2 separate regions of the Homo sapiens genome follow, and region 2 is linked to region 1. Evidence: fine-mapped expression QTL. Tissue or cell type: skeletal muscle. Region 1 holds a variant in brackets; the other region holds the start of a gene. All regions are shown on one strand. Distances are from middle to middle.

What was found. PIP is the estimated chance that this variant, and not a neighbour inherited with it, causes the effect. A credible set is the group of variants that fine-mapping cannot tell apart.
Region 2: it holds the start of WASHC3, and the variant in region 1 is the best candidate, but not a certain one, in a credible set for the expression of WASHC3 in skeletal muscle (GTEx, PIP 0.89).

What each region holds. Positions count from the first base shown.
Region 1 is chr12:101,940,133-101,948,312 of GRCh38, reverse strand. No RefSeq gene overlaps it. Among named protein-coding and RNA genes, the nearest start is that of DRAM1-AS1, 20 kb to the left of the region's middle. The variant T/G (reference allele first, on the strand shown) is at 3,238.
Region 2 is chr12:102,058,002-102,066,195 of GRCh38, reverse strand. WASHC3 (WASH complex subunit 3) reads left to right here and starts at 4,205. Exons shown (of 7, transcript NM_016053.4): 1 at 4,205-4,284; 2 at 4,850-4,948. The coding sequence starts at 4,234. RefSeq lists enhancers at 4,287-4,486, 4,497-4,546.

The sequences.
Region 1 (8,180 bases):
ATTAAATTTTATGGATGTGCCATCATTTATTTAACCATTTTTCATTATTCAAATCATACTTTTAACATCACATTTATTAGAACTATAAATAATGCTCCCATAAACAGCTTTGTTTATAAATTTTTATCCAAGTTTCTGATTATTTCATAATAATAACAACTTCCACTAAATAATAGACTGGTGGAAAAAGAATTACTAGGTCGAAATTTAAGGCTGTTATTATTTATCAAATTATGTGCCAGAAGGATTGTACCAATTTATGTATCTAATGAAAGTGTGTAAGCATGACCATTTCTCCATACCCTCACTCACCATCATTGGCTGTGAGCTTTTAAAAATATCTTTGTTGCCCCTGAGACTGAAATATTATATATATATATATATATTTTTTTTTTTTTGAGATGAAGTCTCACTCTGTTGCTGGGGCTGGAGTGCAGTGGCAAGATCTCGGCTCACTGCAACCTCCATCTAATTTTTGTATTTTTAGTAGAGACAGGATTTCGCCATGTTGGCCAGGCTGATCTCGAACTCCTGACCTTAAATGATCGGCCTGCCTCGGCCTCCCAAAGTGCTGGGATTACAGGCGTGAGCCACTGTACCCAGGCATATATGTGTTAATCTAATGGAGAAAATTTTCTGATTTAAATATTAATATCCTTGCAAATTGAGATTGATTTTTTATATATTGTTAACAGTTAAGAATTTTTACACAACACTCATAGAGTGTATGGTGAGTATTTCTTTATTTTGCTATATCAAATTAAATCCAGTTTGAGTGTCCCACAGGACAAAATTGGCAGGAAGCTCAATAACAGATCTCTTTCCCAGTTTTCTTTGTCTCTCTTAGATGGTGGGGATCCTGGACCCTGCATGGCTGTGTAAAGGCAGGGAGCTCTGTTCTGCTGCCTCATCCCTCTAAGGGAGGCATAGGGAAAACTTTATAAAGGGGAAACTTCACCTGGGTTCCCACAGCACTGAAGGCAGTGTCCGGTTCTCACACTTCCACATGCCTTATATCTACCTTAAAGACACTGGAGTGGGTACAGGGCCCCTTCCTGCTCAAACCTTTAACCACCTGTTGCTTACCCACTGTCACCTCTGTCAGCACCACAGGAAGAAACCTCTAGTTCCCGTTACTTGGAAGAGTTATAATTTGGGAACACTTAAGTGTGGCATGCTAGGCTTGTTGCTGGTTGTAAAATTAAACAAATAGTCTGGGTCCGGTGGCTCACGCCTGTAATCCCAGCACTTTGGGAGGCCAAGGCGGGTGGATCACCTGAGGTCAGGAGTTCGAGACCAGCCTGGCCAACATGGTGAAACCCCGTGTCTACTAAAAAGACAAAAATAAATAAATAGCCGGGCATGGTGGTGGGTGCCTGTAATCTTGGCTACTTGGGAGGCTGAGAGGCAGGACAGTCGCTTGAACCCAGGAGGTGGAGGTTGCAGTGAGCCGAGATCATACCGTTGTACTCCAGCCTGGGCAACAAGAGTGAAACTCTGGCTCAAAGAAAAAAAAAAATTAAATAAGTAAGTATGGCATGCAGGGTGTGGGGAGGTTAAGGGAAACGAATGGCTGGGGTCACAGAAGGTTATGTGTATTCCAAAATGCTTTTCCCAGTGGAATGAGCAGATATTTCAGAAGACAAAAGTTTTAACTGTTGGAAGTGTGATATAAATGTCACAGGTCTAAGAAATCAGATATGGAATTATTGACCTATGAGCCATCCTATTTCCTTTGTAACCAAGAAAAAAAATCACATCATTTTTATTGAGCTAGACTATAAATACAAAGTCAGACTGAACAGCACTTCATGGACACACTTACTACCAAGGCCCTCTGTATTCACGCCTCCCATAGCCACTAATTTTTCATATCCTGCTCTTTGAAAAAGCTTCACTTACATAAAGTGCCACAGGATGTACCTTCTGCCAGCCAATGAATTGACTACTGGTCTCATCACTTGGGGTGACAGGACAGATGGAAAAACCCAGTCATAGTTGCTTGTATCCAAGGAACATAAAGTGCTGCTTTTAACTCTTCTTTCAAGGAAAGTAGCTGAGTGAAAAAGCCAAGTCCTCATGCAACCCACCACCAACTATCCAAACCTGCCTCTGTGTTAAGACAGTGCAGGGGCCAGTCTGCATCTAAGACAGAGGAAGAACTAGCCAGAAACCACCTGAAGGCTACTAATACCAAACACGTTACGAGACAACACGTGCCAGTGCAATCTGTGTGCATTATGCCTTCCCTAAAGGTATGTCAACAAAGGAAGGAAACAGAAACTATTCCCCATGCGGGCAACCTCCCCTCTGCCGCACGTGCAAGAGCTGGGGCAATGGATGCAAAAGAGGGCAGAGGAATGAGGGCCCCTAAGAAAGTAGAACAGATAAGGGCTCAGCTCTTGTACTTTGAATTTGTCAATGGATAAGAGAGGGGCTTTTAGAACTGTTTCACTCTTCCAGGTCTATGTGAGGTCCCGTGGATGTAGTTACTCCACCACAAAATCTCACATCTCCTTAAGATTCAGTTCAGCCCTGAAGTAATAATGCCTCTTTGGAAAGAACAGAAGAGCCCAGAAGCCTCTGGGTTCAAAAGGGCACGGTCTAAACTGACAGCCTGCTTGCCAGCCTCAGAGATAATAAAACTTCTCAGACTGGGAGAGAAATCCACTGTCAAGAATGTCTGCTGAGGAGAGCTCGCTCTGATTGCCGCCATCCCCATAAACAAAAACAGATGTGTGTGCTCACGAGTAAAGTAAACATTCAAGTTCAATATACGCTCCTCTCCGCCAATCCAGTTTGGCACCTCAATGCGAGCAAATAGTCTGTGAGGCAGAGTGGAACTTTTCTATAACATGGGCGGTGTCAAGTGACAGGGCTCACATCTGTGTATTAGGTTACTTGTTATATGAAAAAGCTATAGAATAGACTTTCTGTTTCCCAGGGAATGATTTGAGCTATGGTAAATCTATTGCAATGGAATAAATAGTTGATCCATATTAAAGAAACAAAAGAGCATCATGTTGAAGAACATGAGTTTAAATCCTGGTTCTACCACTTAGGGTTTGTGTGACCCTGGGCAAGTCATTTAACCCCAGTGTTTAACATCTGTAAAATGAGTTTTAGTAGTACTTATCTCTCATCTTGCGGTGGCAAGCATAATAAAATGTGAGCTCCTTCTAGGATTCTTCCATGGCACTAGAGGAAGTAGGATCTAAAAGTCTGAATATCTAAGCT[T/G]GTCTTTATTCATCCTTTCAACAAATATGTATTGAGTATCTACAGTGTGCCAGGTACAGAGACAGAGCAGTGACGACGACAGGTATAACTCAAAGGGACAGGATAGAAAAGGGATGAAACACGTCCCTGTTGTTTACTGTGGACTGTTCCTGGATGCAGCCATGTGGCATTTCTGCTTACATCCCACTGATCATAGTAGCAAGAGGGCTGGGTTAGCTGTTATTCTAGATGGCTTTGTGACTGGTTATAAATTAGAGCATTTTGGCTGGGCATGGTGGCTCACACTTGTAATCCCAGCAGTTTGGGAGGCCGAGGCGGGCAGATCACGAAGTCAGGAGTTCGAGACCAGCCTGGCCAACACGGTGAAACTCCGTCTCTACTAAAAAATATAAAAATTAGCTGGGCATGGTGGTGGGTGCCTGTAATCCCAGCTACTCGGGAGGCTGAGACAGGAGAATTGTTCGAACCCAGGAGGCAGAGGTTGCAGTGAGCCGAGATCACGCCATTGCACTCCAGCCTGGGCGACAGTGTGAGACTGTCGCAAAACAAAACAAAACAGAACAAAAATAAATTAGGGCATTTATTCATCACAGAGTCTACAGTCTTGTGATTTATCTGTCCCCTAAGATGTGGCCCTCCTATATCACTTGCCACCCTGAGCTTGGTGTTTCCCAAAGTTTTTTAAACATAAGAATCTCCTGGCACCCCTGTGAAAAGACAGATTCTGAGACCTCACCTTATCCTACTGAAAATTACAGGAGGATTCTGACTCCTTTTTCCTCACTGGCAAAACAGGGAGCAGAGCAAGCCCTATCACAATCTTGTATGTTTCAAGGGAAATAGCATATGCAAAGGAGCTTTGGAAACCATGAAGTTACTCTCTCGTGGCTGGTTTCCAGGCTCGCTCTGGAGGTTCAGAGGCAAAAGCCACTCTGAGGCTGTGGCCCATCACAGTGTCCTCCTCCCCCACACCACCTTCCCTTTTGGGGCTTTCTGGAGACACCAATCAGAAGCCACCCACCTCCATTTGAACCCAATGAACTGATGGTCCCAGGCTGGAACCTGCCTAAAGTTTACCACCAAGGTGGACACCTGAGTTGTGTTCTAGGAGTGCTGATTACAGAGCTTCAGGGGGTCAGGCAGCAGTCAAAACTGATGGTTTTCAAGGGATGGCCCTGCCTTCCCTTGGTACCTGCTGGAATGGAAAATGAACCCAAAGATTAGAGTGGGGAAATGTAGGGTCTTGGTAAGTTCTCATCACCCAGGCCCTGCCCCTTTCTCCAGCTACATCTCCCTCTACCCCTCCATATACCCATCTAGCCTCTGATTACTCCTCTCCTTCTTTCAGTAATAAAATCCTCTACTTTATAACCAGTCACAAAGCCACCTAGAATAACAACTACCCCCAGCCCTCTTGCTACTATGATCAGTGGGATGTAAGCAGAAATGTCACATGGCTGCATCCAGGAACAGTCCATAGTAAACAACTGGCATGTGTTTCATCCCTTTTCTATCCTGTCTCTTCTTTCATCCTGCTGCTTGGAATACTGATGAGATGGCTGAAGTTCTAGCATCTATTTTGGATGTTGGGGATGAAACTACACATTAGGAGTACTGGAATAGAGAAGGAGCCTGGAGCCCTGAGCACTGTGTGGAGTTGAGCTTCTAGTCTAGTTTTGGACTATCTAGTTTGGACTAACCTCTGGACTTCTACCTAAGAGAAATAAACTTCCATTTAATTTAAACCACTGTTGTTTTGGGTTCTGCTATCACAGCCAAAATGAATACTAACTAACAGAGTGCTCAGGAGCATGTATTCTGGAATTAGATTGGCCAGGTTCAGTCACTTATTACCTGGCAGCCTTACGCAATTTGCTTCCCTTCTTTGCCTCAATTGTAAAATCAAAATGCTCCAGCCTGGCCAACATGGTGAAACCCCATCTCTACCAAAAAAGCACAAAAATTAGGCAGGCATGGTGGCACACACCTACAGTCCCAGGTACTTGGGAGGCTGAGGTGAGCAGCTTGAACCTGGGAGATGGAGGTTGCAATGAGCCAAGATTGCGCCACTGCACTCCAGCCTGGAAGACAGAGTGAGACCCTGCTTCCCAAAAAAAAAAAAAAAAACCAAAATGCTAAAGACAGCATCTACTTCCTGGAATTGCTAAGAATGAGCTAAAACATGTAAAGCTTAAAACATGGAAAGCCCAGCACATAGTACGCACTCATTGAACATGAGCTATTATTGAAATCAGCTATTAAATACATAAAGAATAAAGATATACCCCTAAAGGAGCAAGACTGAAAGATATTCTCTATCATGCTGCATGCATGCACTTTTGCAAAGGGCTACATTTTTCTGTTAGTAAAGAAACACAGAAGGTGGGCTGGGCAGTGTGGCTCATACCTGTAATCTTATTGGGAGGCTGAGACAGGCGGATCACTTGAGGCCAGGAGTTCAAGACCAGCTTGGCCAACATGGTGAAACCCCATCTCTACTAAAAATACAAAACAATTAGCTGGGTGTGTTGGCACATTCCTGTAATCCAAGCTACTTGGGCAGCTGAAGCATGAGAATCATTTGAACCTGGGAGGCGGAGGTTGCAGTAAGCTAAGATCACACCACTGCACTCCAAGCTGGGTGACAAAGCAGGACTCTGTTTCAAAAAACAAAAAAAGAGTCATAGAATATAGAAGGTGCCCAAATTCCCAGTGGAAGAATTTTGTTTACTCATCCCTGACACAGCTCAGATATAAATAGGCCCTTTATTTGATCACATAAAATGGTAGTCCTAGAATGTACTTTGAAAAAGGAGGTCCAATCTAGGCTTAGCTCGGAAATGGAGATAGAAGGAAAGCCTTGATCCCTCTTGATGGCATCTGGATAACAGGGCCTGAGCCTGAGTGATATTCATGTTCACCCTTAAAGGGGCCCAAGGAGTGGAGCATCTGGATTGGGGCGAGGGTTCATGACAGTGCATGTGTTTTGAATTGGTGATTCTTTTAACAGAAGCAGTTTGGAACCAAGACTGGGAAGCTGCTGCTAACTGGAATGTTCTAGCCATGTTTCATGTTCCCTGAGGGCAGAGCTGGTGGCTCTCAGTGTATTGGGGGGATTTAAGTTAGATGCTAGGAAGAACTTGTTTACTATAATAGTTGTGAAAGGCAGATACAAATGTGGTTGTAGAATGTTTCTATCTCTAAGAAGATAATCTGAAGATAGTAGAGGGGGAAGTATCTTTCACAGATAGAGGTTATGAACTGAGCATCCTCCAGTAAGAAAGAGGAAGTGAGAACAAAGAAAGTAATAGCATAATACTTCTGAGTAGTTGTTTCTTCAGTCCAAATAGACCTAAGTTCAAATCCTAGCTTACCAGTTCCAATTAACCACTCTGACCCTCAGTTTCCTCCTCTAACAGGAGATCACAGTACACCCGCCTCTGAGAGTGACTGTGAGGTTGAGACAAAATATATCCAATAATATGGGAGGTGTTCAATAAATATTCATTTTATTCTTGTCTTACAAATCTTTTCCTATTCTGCGACTCTATGATTCAGCACTTCCTGGAATTCTAAGGCACTAGAAACTTTCCAAAGAGTTTGAACTGCTTAATTGCTAGCTTCCAAGCTCTTCCCAGCATTTCTTTGAGAGGTGAATAGTAGAAATGGATCACAAATCAGACAGACAAATGCATTTTGTTTGCTGGTCTAGCAATATCCCCTTACATGCTATTTTCTCCATTGTTCTCACTGGGACAAGAATGGGATTGTCAAAAACAAGTCGCACACTGCAGTGTGTAGAATTAGGATGGGATGTGGCTATTGCTCCTGCACTTTGCTGCCTGCAGAGATAAGCACCTGAAGTCTCTTAAGGGCTTGAGACTGGGGTCCAGCACAGGGCGGTGGGAAGGGCATTGCTTTGGGGAACAATTGTCTAGAAGCTCCCGGACTGGCCGGGCTGGTACCTCTCTGCATGACTCCCTGGTCCTCTCCTGTACATAATGCAAGGATGAAATTAGGTGAATGCAAAAGACTCTCCAAACTCAGAGTTTCTCTGAGCTGGTGATTGCTATGGGTGGAGAGTGATTCCTCTGTCCTTTGCTGGTTTCTGTGGGCTATATTCCTGGATCTTGTTTTCTCTTTCTCTTGAGGAAAACATTTTAAAAGTATATGTAAAGTCTTCTCCTACGTGGGAGGCTCTGCGTAGGGGCTGTGTTGGCGGGTAATAAGGGAAGATACAGAGAAAAAAATAACCAACCTGAGCATTTGCTGCTGACAATTACCTTAAGTCTCTTGTGTTTGGCTCTGTAAGTCTCTTGTGTTTGGCTTGGATAGGGAGACCTGTCTGTCTTGTTCTACTTCACAAGAGAACAATAAAGACATGATAAGTGAGAAAAAGCTATGTGATATATCCACATACGTGGGAGGCTCTGTGTAGGGGCAGTATTCGCTGGTAATAACCTCCTCTCCCCTCCTCTCCCCTCCCCTCCCTTCCCCTCCCTTTCCCTCCCTTTCCCTTCCCTCCTCTCCCCTCCCTTCCCCTCCTCTCCCCTTCCCTCCTCTCCTCTTCTCTCTCAATTGCCTCCAATCCTTTTATAGCCTGCCACATCATTAAAAAGAGTCTTATTGTATAAGTCTTGAGCCCAAAGTCTAGAGAAAAAATTTAAATTACAAAGAACTTATGTCCTAAAGAAGTTTGTTCTTTTCCTCACATGTGCAATTTATTCCCCCTTTAAAATGAGAAAGCTGGTGAAGGAAAGAACCACTCATTTCTCAACTCATAGGCGCTATGTTTCTTCAATAAGAACTTCCACAGTGGAATGTAGTTGCCCCAAGGTGGAAACAAACCATTGACAAGCAGTTGTTGAAAAGAGTTGCTTTATGTGATTTTCTATCTATAAAGGGAATGAGCAAAAGAAAGATGTTAACCTATCCTGATTCTA
Region 2 (8,194 bases), 120 kb before region 1:
CTCTGCCCTAAATTGGTAATATAGTAGGCTTTCAAGCAAACAGGCAATTATATGTGCTAAGATAGAGTTAAGCAGAGAATGCTATGGAAGCATGTAAGAACAGTTAATCTAATCTGTGTGGCTTTGGGAAAGCTCTAAGGATGGAATGTTAAGACTTCTGCTACTAGTTCGAATACAGAAAGATGCATGAAAGCCTTTTATTTAGTGGTAATAAGAAATAACCAGATAAAAATCATACTTTTTATGGGGCTGTTGAAAAGCCATGTATGTAAGACCTTAATGAAATAAATTCTATAGTCATGCCTATGTTTGGAGGAACATAGTTGAGCAGAGAGCTGTGGCATTGCCATGCCCAGGGAGAAGGGCGTGGTCTGGATACAAGTAGATGGAAGAACAAGCCTGCAACACTCTAGGAGACTTTGCAGAGTTAAGGAGAAAGTGGCTAAGACTTTGCTACAAGCTGGTGAGACAGACTTGGGTCTGGAAGGACCTCAATCACGAAAATAAATCACTTGGGCCTACACCCTACCCCTAAGATTGCTAAGAAAGCAGTAATGGAGGAAATGTTTTCGGTAAGTAGAATTCACTAAATCTTGCACATTCTTATGGTGCTTGGATTCCTGAGCCCTGCTGAAGCTGAATCCGAAGGTGAACCAAATGATCTGAAACTATGGCCCATCCCTCTCTAACACAGACAAGATCCAAGAGCTCAGTCCTTTGCAGGAGGTTGAATTGAATTAACTGCAGGTAAACTTAATCTAAAGCTGCAGCCCAGCATCAGCTCAATTCAAATTGTGAATGAATCTGAATGTTCCATTTCTCACTGAACTTTGTTCTTTTTTTCACAATGTCCATAATAAAATTAAAAATTATAAGACATGCTAAAAAGCAGGAAACATAACCCATAATTAGGAAAAAGTTGTCAATAGAACCAGGCACATAGATGAACCAGAAATTGGCATTATTAGATAAGGACTTTTTAAAAACTTATAAATTTGGTTTTTTTAATATAGAGGAAAAGATGAATGAAGGGAATTTCAAGAGAAAAACAAACTCTAAAAAACAGATTTTTAGAAAAAAATACATCTGAAATCAACTTATTAGATGAGTTCTGGAACTAAATTGGAAACTAGAAAATAGTTAAATTGGAAACTAGAAAATACTTGAAGATAGGTTTGTAAGAATTATCCACACTGAAACACAGGGAGAAAAGAAAATGATTGGGGGGAAATGAGCAGAGCACCGTGATCTATGGGCAAAATCAAGCAGTCTAACATACAAGTATTTTTGAAGTCCCAGAAAAAGAGAAAAATGACAAAAACATTTTTTGAAGAATTAATGGCCAAAAATCTTTCTTCCAAATTTGATTTAGAACACCAACCCACAGATCTGAGCAGCTCAGCAAACTACAAGCAGGATAAATACAAAGAAAACCATACCCATACCCCACGCACATTATATTCAAACTTGAAAACCAAGGATAAAGGAGAGAAGATATGTGAAGAATGAGTAGGAGTTAGCCAGGCAGGGGTTGTTGGGAAGCAGGGGAGATTGTTCCAGGCAGAGGGAAGACAACATCTTGAAAGACCCACACACAGCAAGCAATTCCAGGAATTGAAAGAAGTTATTTGGGGCTAAGGAGAAAGTTATAACAGTGAGAGGTAAGGTTAAAGAAGTGGCCAAGAGCCACAGAGAGGACCTGTGAGCATAGTATCTGAGGGAGATGGGGAACAAAATTATATCCTGAGTAATATAATCAGATTTGTCTTTTTAAAAATCACTATGGCTACAATGTGTGGAGTAGCTTGGAGAGACACAAAATGGAGGCAGGAAGAGGCTATTGCAGTAACCCAGGCACAAAAGTGTGTTGTACAGAACTTGAGATATGGCAGTAAGGATGGAGAGTTACAGACTGATTCAAGAACTACTTAGGAAGTAGAAGAGGTAAGATTTGATGAATGACTAGATGTAAAGGAGGATGGAGTAAAGAGTGACTGTTAGACCTATGCAACATTTCCAGGTTCAGCCACCTACCCTCAAGTCACATTCATTACCTTGTACCAAACAGAATGTCCCGAAATGCAATTCTGATCATGCCACCCCCTGCTTAAAAGCTCTTCTGTAGCTCCCATCATTTCTCTGCTCTAGATCTTTCCATGACTTCCCATCATACCCAGAGTGAAAGCCAAAGTCCTTATGATGTCCCATAAAGCTCTGCATGATCAGGTCTCCACATAACTTTTAGCCATCATGTCCTTCAGTTCCCCACCTTGCTCACTCTGCTTCAGCTATACTGGCTTCCAATGTAAGGTCTGGGTTAGATATATAAATGTGAGAAACTCTAGAGATTGGGGACATAAGAAGCAACCAGCAAAAGAAACTGAAAGGAAATGACCATAGTGATACAAAGAAAACCAGAGAAGATCTGCCTTCCTGAAAGAAAAATTAAGAAAGTTCAATCAGGAGAAGGTGATCACGCTAAGGTTAAGCTGGGCAACGTGCAACTTTAAGAAACACCACCCACACCCAAATAATTGCTACAGATGGCCTATGAATCACATTAGATAAACATGGACTATAGTATCAAATCTGGCATAAAAGGCCCTTAAACGAAAATTTTCTGGCTACGTCTCCTGAGGCAGAATAGGGTCTGGAGGCAGGGAACCTAACGCCGATTCACGCTGACTTCCTAGAACTAAATCAAAAGGTAAACCCCAAATTTCCACACCTAAGTAACAAAAGGACCAGCGGCTACTCCCTTTGCAAATCCCCACCTTTTCTGACAGGCAGATGGAAATTGAAAGTACCTCAACCAATCAGACTGATTGCGGGCCAAATCTTCCTTTGCATAGAAGTGCAACTAAGTAACATCACTTTAGCCAATGATTGGTTGCTTTCCACAACCAATCAGATGTTTGTATAGGAGTATGACCTTTGTCATTTTACTTCAGCCTCTGATTGGTTGCTTTCCATAACCAATCAGACTGATTGTGGGCCACCACTTCATTTGCATGAGGAGAACACCAGTGTCCAATGGGAAATCTCTAGTGGGTATTTGGACCTAAGAAGATTCTGTATCCAGTACACTGTGGAGCGTACTTTGGTTTTCAATGAATCTTTGCTTTTGTTGGTTCATTCTCTCCTTGATTTGTGCGTTTTGTCCAATTCTTTGTTCAAAAGAACCTGGACACCCTCCACCAGTAACACTCTTACCTCATTTCCTACCATTCTCCATTTATGGGATTATTTGCTTCAACCAAACCAACAGGCCAGGTGCCAGTGGCTCACACCTATAATCCCAGCACTTAGGGAGGCCAAGGCATGAGGATCATTTGAGCCAAAGGGTTTGAGACTAAGGTGAGCTATGATCCTCACTGCACGCCAGACTGGGTAACAAAGCGAGACCCCCCATCTTTAAAACAAAACTGCCCACTGCAGTCTTGGTCTTCATCTTTTTGATGCTCCCTGTAAGTGGCAGTCACTTCCGTAGGTTTGTGCCTCACATCTAGTAGTTGACATTTTATTTCATGTTTTAAAAACCTTTGGAAGACCAGGCGCGTTGGCTCACGCCTGTAATCCCAGCACTCTGTGAGGCTGAGGCAGGAGAATCGTGTGAGGCTGAGGCAGGAGAATCGCTTGAGGCCAGGAGTTCGAGACCAGCCTGGGGAAATAGCGAGAACTTGTGTGTATACACACACACACGCTTTGGAAGTAGGTCTTATTTCTCATTCTTCAGGGCATAAACCTCTCCCGTGCAGCAATCAAACTCAATCTTTGTTTTCCCAGTAAAAGCCTAGCAGAGTATATGGCACTTAGGATTAACAACAACAAAAAAAAAATTGTTGCTCAAGGAATGACGGAGTTATTATATAACAGACAGGACTAAGTAGGGATAACCTCAAAAGGACGCAACTTCTGGCTTTGTTTTTTTGTTTTGTTTTGTTGCCTCCTTTCTAAGATTTCAGTGCTCTAACTGCATCCTTGCACCACCGCGCGCCACCCCGAAATTGACGTCACAATCTGGACTAAAACTACCAATCCCAGAATGCCGAGCGAGGAGGCGGGCTCTCCGGAAGCCGCCGAGTGATTAGTGAGCGGAGAAGCTTTCTTCCGGCGGGAAGGGCCCCGGAGGCGGGCACTTGGGGGGAAAGTTGAGACGTGATTACCGGGTTGGGCGGGCCCCATCTGGGAGGGGTTTGTGGGTGAACTCGGGGTCCACCGCCCGCTGAGGAGATGGATGAGGACGGGCTTCCTCTCATGGGGTCAGGCATAGACCTGACCAAGGTTTGTAAAAGACGGTGCTAGACTCCCGACGAGCCGGGAGGAGGATGGGGAAGACGCAGCTTTCCGGGGAGACACCCACCTTCCGAGTCCCCACCCTGTCACGGCCTCGGGCCCTTGTGACAGGCCTGTGGGGCCTCAGGAGGGAGAGCCCCACAGTCCACCTTGAAATGGGGTCCCTCCTGAGCTGATTAAGGAGACGGTGTGCATCTCCCAACTGTCGCTTCCCATCTCGCTTGTCTCTCTGCCGCCGGCGACACACGCCGGTTGCGATAGCTAGCCCTACCTCTTATTCAGCCCCCAAGATTTTGTGTGTGTTTATGTGTGGTGCTTTTTGCCTGCCAAAATTCGTACCAGTGAGTCTAGAGCCTGTTCTCAAACTTTTGTGCACCTCTGTCATCTTCGGACACCCCACCCACAGCTTAGGAAACAAGTTAATGACTATTCCCAGTCCTTCAAGAAATTCATATCACACAGCAAAGTGCCTCGTGATTATGTCCAAATATGAAAAGATTTGCACTGTGTACGTTCCTCCTGTATGAACCATGTTTGTTTTTACGTAACACAGGTGCCAGCTATTCAACAGAAAAGAACGGTGGCTTTTCTAAACCAATTTGTGGTGCACACTGTACAGTTCCTCAACCGCTTTTCTACAGTTTGTGAGGAGGTAGGTCCGGTGATACTGGTTTATAGAGTCGCCTGGAAATCACCTTTCACTGCTGAGACTGACAAATGGAGTAAAACAAGAATTACAGTCTTTATTCATGTACCGTGACCTCTCATCACCCAATTGTGTTAACACATCTTAGGTTCTCTTTTACTCTGTTAAAATCAATCCTGCACCCCTCCTCTACTGAGTTAGTGTTCTAGAGGTCCCTGTGAGATAGGTCAGTCAGGCTTATTGCGATTAAAGGGAACAATAGGAAATCTAATTTTTTTTTTTTTTTTTTTTTTTTTTGTGAGACAGGGTCTCACTCTGTCACCCAAGCTACAGTGCAGTGGCGCGATCTCGGCTCACTGCAACCTCCACCTCCCGGGTTCAAGCGATTCTCCTGCCTCAGCCTCCTGAGTAGCTGGGATTACAGGCATGCGCCACCATGCCTGGCTAATTTTTTATATTTAGTAGAAACGGGGTTCCAACATGTTGATCAAGCTGGTCTCGAATTCCTGACCTTGGGCGATCCACTAGCCTCGGCCTCCCAAAGTGCTGGGATTACAGGCGTGAGCCACCGCGCCCGGCTTCTAAAATTTCACAGTTGAAAACAGTTTTTATTTTGCAATTTGTCATTCGTTCCCGTACCCCAAAACCACATTGTTTAAATTTATTTTACATTCTGGATCTAAAAGATGGCTAGAGGAGATAGCCTAGAAACATAACTTTGGCATCAAATATGATTATAGAAATGAAAATATTTTCTGCAAATGACTTGTGATGTAAGGATTAAGTACCCAACTAGGGATTAGGTACCAGAACTGGCACAGCAGTGCGCACCTGTAATCCCAGCTACTCGGGAGGCAGAGGCAGGAGGATCACTTGCGCCCGGGAATTTGAGACAAGACTGGACAACAGAGAAACTCAGTGTTTTGTTTTTGTTTTTGTTTTAAAAAAGAGGATTAGGTACTAGATCCAGGATCCAGGGAATCCCTGTCTTTTAAAAAGCCAAAAGAGGATGGGGAAGACAATGGGAACCATGGGTTGAAATTGCATTTAAGGAAAGAGCAAAGTAAATTATGGGACTTAGATATTCACAAGTAAGTCTGTTGAACATTCTGTCTTATGTAAGGTATAGCCTTAGCAATTAGAGTTTTTGTTAAGTGTGTTACTACTATTAATAAAAATTGCATGGAGATGGGAAAACTATTTTTTACTTGTATGAAATTCCAGTTATTGTTTTGTCTAATTATCAACATTTCTTCTGCCTTCTAAGACAAAGTAAAATATAGTAATTGGTAGAGTAAGGGGCTTAATTCAATTTAGTTTTATATGTTAATGGCCAGAAACTAGGTGCTTGCTTCCAGTCAGTTTTATTTCGTTCCTACTATCTCTCTAAATAATTTAGGATATAAAATTGACTGAATAAAAACCAGTAAGCCAAGGTTTTCACCCTTCGATTTTTATACCAGGGCAAGATGGAGAAGTATCTGGAAAGGGACTGTCCCAGGATTACTAGCAGAAAGAAGCAAATACTCTTATCCCCATAGCCCTTATCATCAAGCTGAAAAATAAAGAACAAAGCAACAAGTAAACACACCTATGAAAGCAACTTGTTTGAGCTGTCCTGAAACAGGGATAGCCCTTCACCTTTGTAGTGCCTAATGGTTCTTGAATGAGAGCTGTTTACTGACAACTAGATCAAAGAAAACAATAGTCATCTCATTTATTGATAGATTATGATCAAAGCCTCATGAGTCACTCTTTAACCTCCTCCTGTTCCTGTCTCAACTTCTCTGCAGCTGTTCTGGCTGTATCTGTATTCTAGTACTTCTTTGAACTCTAGAGAAAAGTTTGTTCATCAAAACCTCATGAAGTTTAAAGGTAGTCTATTGCCTTTTGTCCTTTTTCAAAAATCTTATTTCTTTATTTAAATTGACAGGTAAAAATTGTATTTTTATGATGTACAACATGATGTTTTGATATATGAATACATTGTGGAATGGCCAAACCAAGCTATTTAACATAAGCAATGCCTCACGTACTTACTTTTTTTTGTGGTGAGCACACTTAAAATCGCCTCTCTTAGCAATTTTCAATACAATATATTGTTATTAACAGCAGTCACCATGACATGTAGGAGATCTCTTGAACTTATTCCTCCTGCCTAACTGAAATTTTGTATCCTTTAACCGCATCTCCCCAATCCTCTTAACCCCAAGCCCCTGCTAACCACCATTCTACTCAATATTTCTATGAGTTGTACTTTTTTATCCTCCATATATAAGTGAGATCATTCAGTATCTGTCTCTGTTTGACTGGCTTATTTCATTTAACACAATGTCTTCCAGTTCATTTATGTTGTCACAAATGACAGGATTTCATTCTTTTTTAAGGCTAAATAGTATTCCATTGTGTATATATACCACTTTTTTTAATCCATTCATCCATTGATGGACACTTTTGATTCCGTATCTTGGCTATTGTGAATAATGTTGCAGTGAACTTTCAAGTACAGATGTCTCTTGAATGTACTAATTTTACATCCTTTGGATATATACCCAGAAGTGGGATTGCTGGATCATATAGTAGTTCTATTTTTAATTTTTTGTGGAACCTCTGTACTATTTTCTATAATAGCTGTACTAATTTACATTCCCACCAACAGTGTACAGAGGTTCCCTTCATCACATATATGGTTTCCAAATATAGTCTCCCATTCCATAGGTTCTCTTCACTCTATTGATGGTTTCGTTGGCTGTGCAAAAGCTTCGTAGTCTTTTAAAATAATTTTTAAAAAATAATTTAAAATCCAGATTCTACAAACTTCTTAGTGTGATGTAATCCCATTTATTTATTTTTGGTTTTGTTACCAGTGCTTTGGGGTTTATATCCAAAAAAAGTCATTGCCCAGACCAATGTCGTGCAACTTTCCCCTTATGTTTTCTTCTAGTAGTTTTACAGTTTCAGGTCTTACATTTAAATCTTGAATCCTTTTCGTGTTAAATTTTTTTATATGGTAAAGGATGAGGGTCTAATTTCATTCTGCATGTGGATATCCAGTTGTCCCAAAATGATTTATTGAGACTGTTATTCTTAACATCTGTGAAAAGTATGTTTCTGTAACTGTCTTTTCTGTGTTCTTAACATCTTTCTCAAAAATCAATTGACTTTAAATGCATGGATTTATTTCTGGGCTCTTTATTCTGTTTCCTTGGTCTATGGCTGTTTTGATTACTGTAGCTTTGTGGTAGATTTTCA